Linked DNA regions of Homo sapiens. The protein of the gene in region 1 purifies or fractionates together with the protein of each later gene. This does not show direct contact. Each region holds a gene or a part of one and is shown on either strand. Other genes may lie near its edges.

The links.
Region 2: the proteins of FRYL (region 1) and RNF138 purify together in Homo sapiens (affinity purification with mass spectrometry; 2 studies listed by BioGRID and IntAct, with this or other methods). This does not show direct contact.

What each region holds. Positions count from the first base shown.
Region 1 is NC_000004.12:48,770,143-48,773,799, forward strand, and holds part of FRYL (protein furry homolog-like), read right to left. Parts: intron 1-3,657. UniProt on the Homo sapiens protein: Plays a key role in maintaining the integrity of polarized cell extensions during morphogenesis, regulates the actin cytoskeleton and plays a key role in patterning sensory neuron dendritic fields by promoting avoidance between homologous dendrites as well as by limiting dendritic branching.
Region 2 is NC_000018.10:32,122,841-32,126,497, forward strand, and holds part of RNF138 (E3 ubiquitin-protein ligase RNF138), read left to right. Parts: intron 1-677; coding exon 678-734; intron 735-1,893; coding exon 1,894-2,005; intron 2,006-3,657. UniProt on the Homo sapiens protein: E3 ubiquitin-protein ligase involved in DNA damage response by promoting DNA resection and homologous recombination.

The DNA.
Region 1 (3,657 bases):
TCCTAGTTAAGGTTATTAATATGTTATCTTATGTAAGATGTTACAACTGGGAGAAGCTGAATGAAGGTGACACAGGACTCCCTGTACTATTCTCGCAACTTCCCATGAGTCTATAAATACTTCAAAATTTAAAAAAAAATGTTTAAGTGATGATATTCAATCACATTTTTCTTATTTTACAAATTACTAATATTTTAAGTAGGATCAAAAACATGGAACTAATATATTTTAAATTATTTGAAAATGTTTTTCATCCTTATCACATTTTTTTGTTAATGTCTTTTTTATTTTTTATTTATTTTTTATTTTTTTGAGACAGAGTTTCGCTCTTGTTGCCCAGTTTGGAGTGCAATGGTGCAATCTCGGCTCACCGCAACCTCCGCCTCCCGGATTCAAGTGATTCTCCTGCCTCAGCCTCCTGTGTAGCTGGGATTACAGGCATGCACTACCACGCCTGGCTAATTTTGTATTTTTAGTAGAGATGGGGTTTCTCCATGTTGGTTGAGCTGGTCTCGAACTCGCAACCTCAGGTGATCTGCCCGCCTCAGCCTCCCAAAGTGCTGGAATTACAGGTGTGAGCCACCACGCCCGGGTTAATGTCTTATTATGAACATAATTTATAGTATATAGTTTACAATAAATAAGCATACACATATTGGGAATGAAGACTCAATTTTTTATACTGCTGAAATAAAATTTTTGCAGACTTCTGTTACAGAGGCTACAAAATTCCAAGCTACTATCCCTCCCTTAAAATTTTTACCTTGGGAAGAACATTAGAACAGGAAAAATGTTAGAACAGGAAAAATACTAAACTAAGAATCAAAGCACAGTTCTTTTTTTGTTTGTTTTTTGTTATTTCCTTTCAAATCTACATCTGCAGAAAAAGAACAATTCTAAACAAGTCACAGTCTCATTCTCATCTATAAAATGCAGAAATTCTACTGTATCATTCCTAAGGACATTCTAGCTCCAAAAACATTAACTCTAAGGCAGGAAAAGGTGAAACAATGAAAAAATGCATGACAAACTGTAACTAGTATTTACTGAAAGTATATTAAGGGTTCAGTAGTATCAGGAATATTACATACAAGACATGGTCTAAATTGTATCAACACAAATACAGAAAAATGCATCTATAAAGATAATTTTACCTCAAAGAAAACAGATTAAGATCCAGTTTAAACAAAAATATTTAGGTAACAGACACATCTGGCTATTTTACAAGCAATCTCATAGTGCTTTAAGACTTTTAATATCTGCTCTTTGACTTACATTGTAACAATATACCAGTAGATCTAAGTATCCTAGTATACATGCTTAGGGTTTTGATGGTTCTTACAAGAAGTAGACTAGCAAGTCATTCTAACAGGAAAAACAGTTCTTCTCCATCCACTTGAGTTAGACTTAACAAGACAATTTTTAGAGGTTTATTATTCAGAGGAAGTTAAACATCCACAGGGTAGCATCTACCATCCTGTTATACCATCCTCGGCTATCCAGAAGCATCACTTAGCCAAAACAGAGTCAAAAACCAGAAAAAAAGCACGAGTCCTCTAAGCAGTAAAAAACAACAAGTCCCTAGCACTAAAGCTCCATGCACAGAAAGTCTTCTGGTTCCTCACCCAGAAGAACATGCTGTCATTTTTATCCACCATTCAGCAAGTACTGTATGGGGTTCTGTTCCCACAGCACACTGAAAACATCAAATTATAAAGAGGAGACTACTATGGGCAGGCATAATGAGAGCAAACAAAGAGATAACAGTTAACAATAAAGTAATAAGCAAATCAACCCCCAAAAGCAGACATGATTTAGAAAGGAATGGTTTCACCAACAAACAAAATATGATTCTCTGTACATTGCTGGCTGAGGACACTAATTGGCTAGAGTTCCTTTTGCAAATAAATTGTTGTGAGTTCACTGACATCCCAGACATACGAATGTCACTAAATCTATTGACTACTTAATAAGTAAGGTATAAGTATTAATAATGTATATGTACCATCTTTTAAGGTGGAAGGATGCAGATTATATTTTGAGAATTTTTTGTAATTGTTTCCATTAACTATACTTTACACTTCTACAGGCTAGCAAGTCTTTGTCTTTTTAAGATTATTTTGAACCTCTATTTTTGATAGTAATTCACTTGATAGTCACATGAGACCTGCCGGTAAAGGCCACAGTGAGCCGTGATTGCACCACTGCACTCCAGCCTGGGCAACAGAGCAAGACTCTGTGTCAAAAAAATAAATAAATACCTTTCTAAACTTGGATCTACATACATCAAGGGATGATGTACTTGAATCTACTCATACTATTTATACACATTGAGAGGGATCAAGTTACACAGGAATGTACATTTATTAAGATGCACATTCATCAAACTAATATTTTTAACCAGTATTATAGATGGCATAACCCATCTTAAGTTTTAAAATGGAAAAATAAAATTACAAATTATCTTTCCAGCATTCTTTACTATTGAACTAAATTAAATCACATCTGAAGCTTACCCTGAAATGAAGAGACCTACCAAAAAAAAAAAAAAAAAAAAAAAAAGCAGAACAAAACAAGAATTCTGAGAAGTGGAAATACTACACTGAAATCCATTCAGGCAACAAAGAACACGTGAGTGGTTTATATCCTAAAAAGCAAGGCTGCACTGCAGTAAGTAAACAAACTAATGTTCCTTTTTCATCAACTTTCAGATGCTTTTAACAACAACAACACTTTTAACCTTTCTGAAGTATGGACGCTGAAATAGAGGTGTATCTTACAACTACTGTCATCCAACAGTGGGATGTCGTTGGTGAAAACGTTCAGTTGATTCCTCCTGGAAAGATCAAGGAAGCACCAGCATCAAAGTGTCTTACATTTGATCAAAAATAGTCACTCAAAATAGTCTTAAAAAGACAAAGAAATGATCAGAAGCCTGTAAAAGTATAATCAACAGAGACAACTACAAAAAATTCTCAAAATGTAAACTGCATCCTCCTACCTTAAAATATGGTACATATAAATTACTTATCACACTACTTAGCAAGTAGTCAACAGATTATCTATCATTATTATTATAAGACGCAAGATAAAGACTAGTAGAGCTGATGAAAATATCTGTGATCATAGTGATCAGCCAATCAATAAGCACTTATTAAGGGTCTACCAAGTCACTAGCAATATGCAAGAGTAATGCAAATCCATCATGATCAATCTACGAAGCACTATTTTTTTAACCAGTAAGGGGCAAATGTCACATCACATTCATCAACGATTAGAACTAAGTACTTTTAACTTCCTTTAAAGTATTGCCCTTTATTTGAGTCCAGTCTGCAGAACTCGAAACCTAAATTGTTTACTTGAAAAGAGTCATCAAATGATTATGTTAGTATAAGGAAGTGTTACCAGAATGAGTCTAATGGTTTTCATAGGGGAAAAAAAAAATTTCCTATTATTCTCCAGGCTTAGGTAGAATAATGATGGGTTAAATTTTCTCTTAAAACCTTTCTACGGTGGCTCACACCTGTAATCCCAGCACTTTGGGAGGCCAAGGCAGGCAGATAGCTTCAGCCTAGGAGTTCAAGATCAGCCTAGGCAACATGGCAAGATCCTCTTTCTACAAAAAATAGCTGGGTGTGGTGGCACATGCCTGTGGTT
Region 2 (3,657 bases), on another chromosome or scaffold:
CTAAATAAATAAAATTGACCACATTGATCAAATTCTGTAGCACACAGGTGACGGTCCCTGTATGGAATACTTACTCTTCCCTCAGGATTCCTCTGATATTCCATGTGACACATGACTCTCTGGCATATGGTAAAAGTGGAGATGTTAAGTTGTTCTGTATATTAAATGTTAGTGAAGCCTGGTTTCTTTCCTTTCTGGAAATAAAATACAAACATAATGAACATTTACATATTTTCTTAAATTACTGCACTTTGGAGGGCATAACCTTATACCATGTCCTAGTTTGAAGTAAAAAAGTTCACAAATTCTTGAGTCTACCGTAGCATTTAAAACCTTACTAGTCTAGGTAAAGGTAGAGGAATGGGATTTAAGGTAATTCTGCAAAATTCTCTATACTTCTGTAACTGTGCATAAGTTAATTTTAAAGAACATAAATAAGAATCTAGTAAGCAGTCAATTTATTTAAAAGTAATTAATATTGTAATTATTTCATAGTTCAGAACCATTTGAAGTTCAAATTTTGTTTTTTCAAGGACCCAATAGGAAAAAGGTGTATTGAAGTTCAGACTTTTAAAACAAATTCAGACTAGTCTTCTTCATTAATGGTTCAAGATAATGAACCTTTAGTGTGTTTTCATTACTTTGAGGTATTAACTTTTTCCCCTGTGCTTCTTAAGCAATAGGAGTGAAACATCCACATCTGATAACACAGAAACTTACCAAGAGAATACAAGGTAAGCTTTTGAAAAATCCTGCCACTTTAGCAAGTAATATTATATTTATCACTTATCAAATAGCTTTTTAAATTAAACTTTTTTTTTTTTTTTTTGAGACGGAGTCTCACTTTGTTTTCCCAGGCTGGAGTGCAGTGGTGCGATCTTGGCTCACTGCAACCTGCGCCTCTCAGGTTCAAGTGATTCTCCTGCCTCAGCCTCCCAAGTATCTGGTATTACAGGTGCCTGCCACCACGCCCGGCTAATTTTTGTATTTTTAGTAGAAACAGGGTTTCACCATGTTGGCCAGGCTGGTCTCGAACTCCTGACCTCAGATAATCCACCTGCCTTGGCCTCCCAAAGTGCTGGGATTACAGGCATGAGCCACTGCGCCTGGCCATAAATTAAACTTAAAAAAAAAAAAAAAATCAGTTACATCATTAGGCATAGTGTTTGAAGTTAGCAGTTTAGAAATAGAAAATGCAGTTACTGCTTTTAAGAATCACATTAGGTTAGAAGAGTTTAGTTATTCTCTTTCACTGTGGTCAGGTTTCTTCCACACACGATTCAGGTAAAGTTGTCTGTGTTGAACTGTCCCTTCCTGAAATTCAGAAGTATTAAAACTCAGTGATGCTTGATCCTCAGAATGTTTTCGAGTATTTCATTCTCATGATCAGTGCTTTTGTTTTTTCTTTTCCTTTGAATTTTGGATGTTGGATTCCTAGGGCCTGGTATTTATTAGAGATACGATATTGATGGAAGTCTTTTAGAAGTTTTAAGTTCCTAGATAAAAGGTTTGCAAAATGTGGAATACTACAGAATATTAAAAATTTTCAAGGGACATACAGTGACAGCTATTGGCATCAGAAAACAACTACAATTAAGTTTGGACCTAACTACATAATATATGGAGTCAGCTAGGTTTTTGTTTTTGTTTTTGTTTTGGCCTAGAGGTGCCATGAAAAAATTTATTGAGGACACTAAGAGTACTGTAAACTGAGATTGGGAACCTCTGTAATGCATCATTTCCTGAATACATATGTTCAAAATGAGAGAATCTTTGAATAGTCTAATAATTATAACTTTTTTAAAAAATGTATAGTGATTCCTCAAAAAATAGGAGAGCGTTATTTTTGTGTTATTCTGAATTAAGTATGTTTCACTTAAAATTGTTTTATAGTTCTTCTGGTCATCCTACTTTTAAGTGTCCCCTGTGTCAAGAATCAAATTTTACCAGACAGCGTTTACTGGATCACTGTAACAGTAATCACCTATTTCAGATAGTTCCTGTGGTAAGTACATACGTTTGAGACAGTCTTCTGCTTAGAATAAAACATGCTGTTCTATTTATTTCACTTCATGTATGCAAGAGAAAGTAGTTGATTTATATTTGGTTGGGGCATTATCAGTAAGGTAGATTTTTGTCAACAAAGGATTGATGACTGTGAAGCAAAATGAGATATTTAAAATTGCAGTAACTCTCATTATAAAAAGGGAGATGCATAGTGTGAGGTAATATAGCACAGTCTGGAGAAGAGTGAAGTAATGAAAGATGAACCGGGAACTCATTCCTGCGCAGTAGCACAACCTGTCTATTGAGGCCTCAGTTACTTGCTCTGTAGATGGCAGACAAGTAGATCTAGTCAGGTAGATTGCTGTAGGTGAAAATACCTGTAAGTAAGAATAAAGTCAGTAGGTATTTTTATTGTTTTCTTGCAGCATATAGTATGTGAATGCATAAAGCAAGGAAGGAAAAGACTTAGACTTTGTATTTGATGCCTACATATTTTTTGACATTTTGAGGGTATGTAAGAAAATGGTGAGAGCTTTTTGATAATGAGGGAGATAGAGCAGAATTCAGGATTCCAACATATAATGATCCTAGAAGTGTTTCATAGGTAAGTTATTTCAGCTGTGAATGGAACAGGAGAAACTGAGCTGGGAGAGAGATTTCCCTTTCAGCTGAACATTTTGATATATAAATAATTGTCTTCAGAAAGGAGAATAGGAAGGAAAATGTTATCAATAAGAACTGTAGATATTTCTAAGCTGTTTTAGTGAGTATGCTAGGAAAAGTTGTGAAAGAATGTGCTTCAGGACCGGGCACGGTGGCTCATGCCTGTAATTTAGCACTTTGGGAGGCCGAGAGGGGAGGATTGCTTGAGCCCAGGAGTTCGAGACTAGCCTGGGCAACATAGTGAGACCCTGTCTATTTAAAAATAAAGAAAATAAAAAGAATATGCTTCAATAACCATTGAGGATGACCTTAAGCTCTCACATACCACCTAAGAAGGTGTACTACCTACTTTGCTTATTAGAATGGGTTCAGTTATGCTTAAATAGACAAATACAGTGCCAAAGATGTTCCAGGAAATCTCGCTCATATTTAAGATTTTACTTAGTTTTATATTGGATTACCAAATTTTTATTCATTTCTGCATAATATTCGATATATCATAAACTTTGGCTAGAGTTTAATTACTGAAGGTTTTTTGTGTGTTATTTCAGTTATTTATCCATTCAGTTTTTAAGATGTACTTCATTTAAACGTAAGGATATGGCTGGGTGTGGTGGCACATGCCTTTAATCCCAGCACTTTGGGAGGCCAAGGCGGGAGGATTGCTTGAGCTCAGGAATTTGAGACCCAGCCTGGACAACAGTGAGACTGTGTCTCTAGTTTTAAGAAAAGAAAAGAAAAACTAAGGATACAATTTAAAGTAAATTTTCCAGTTTACTTCATTTTTATTTTACTTACAAATGAAATAAAACTAATAATAATTATATGGTTATTGTATGGATCAAATGAGATAATATATTGGATATGTTGCAGGCAGCCAGTTAGTGATAACTGTCATTACAGTTGGTATTATTAAAAGCTAGATGTGGTTTTTCTGTTGAAACATTTGTGTAATAAGAGATTTAAGGAATAGAATGTCTAAGATTT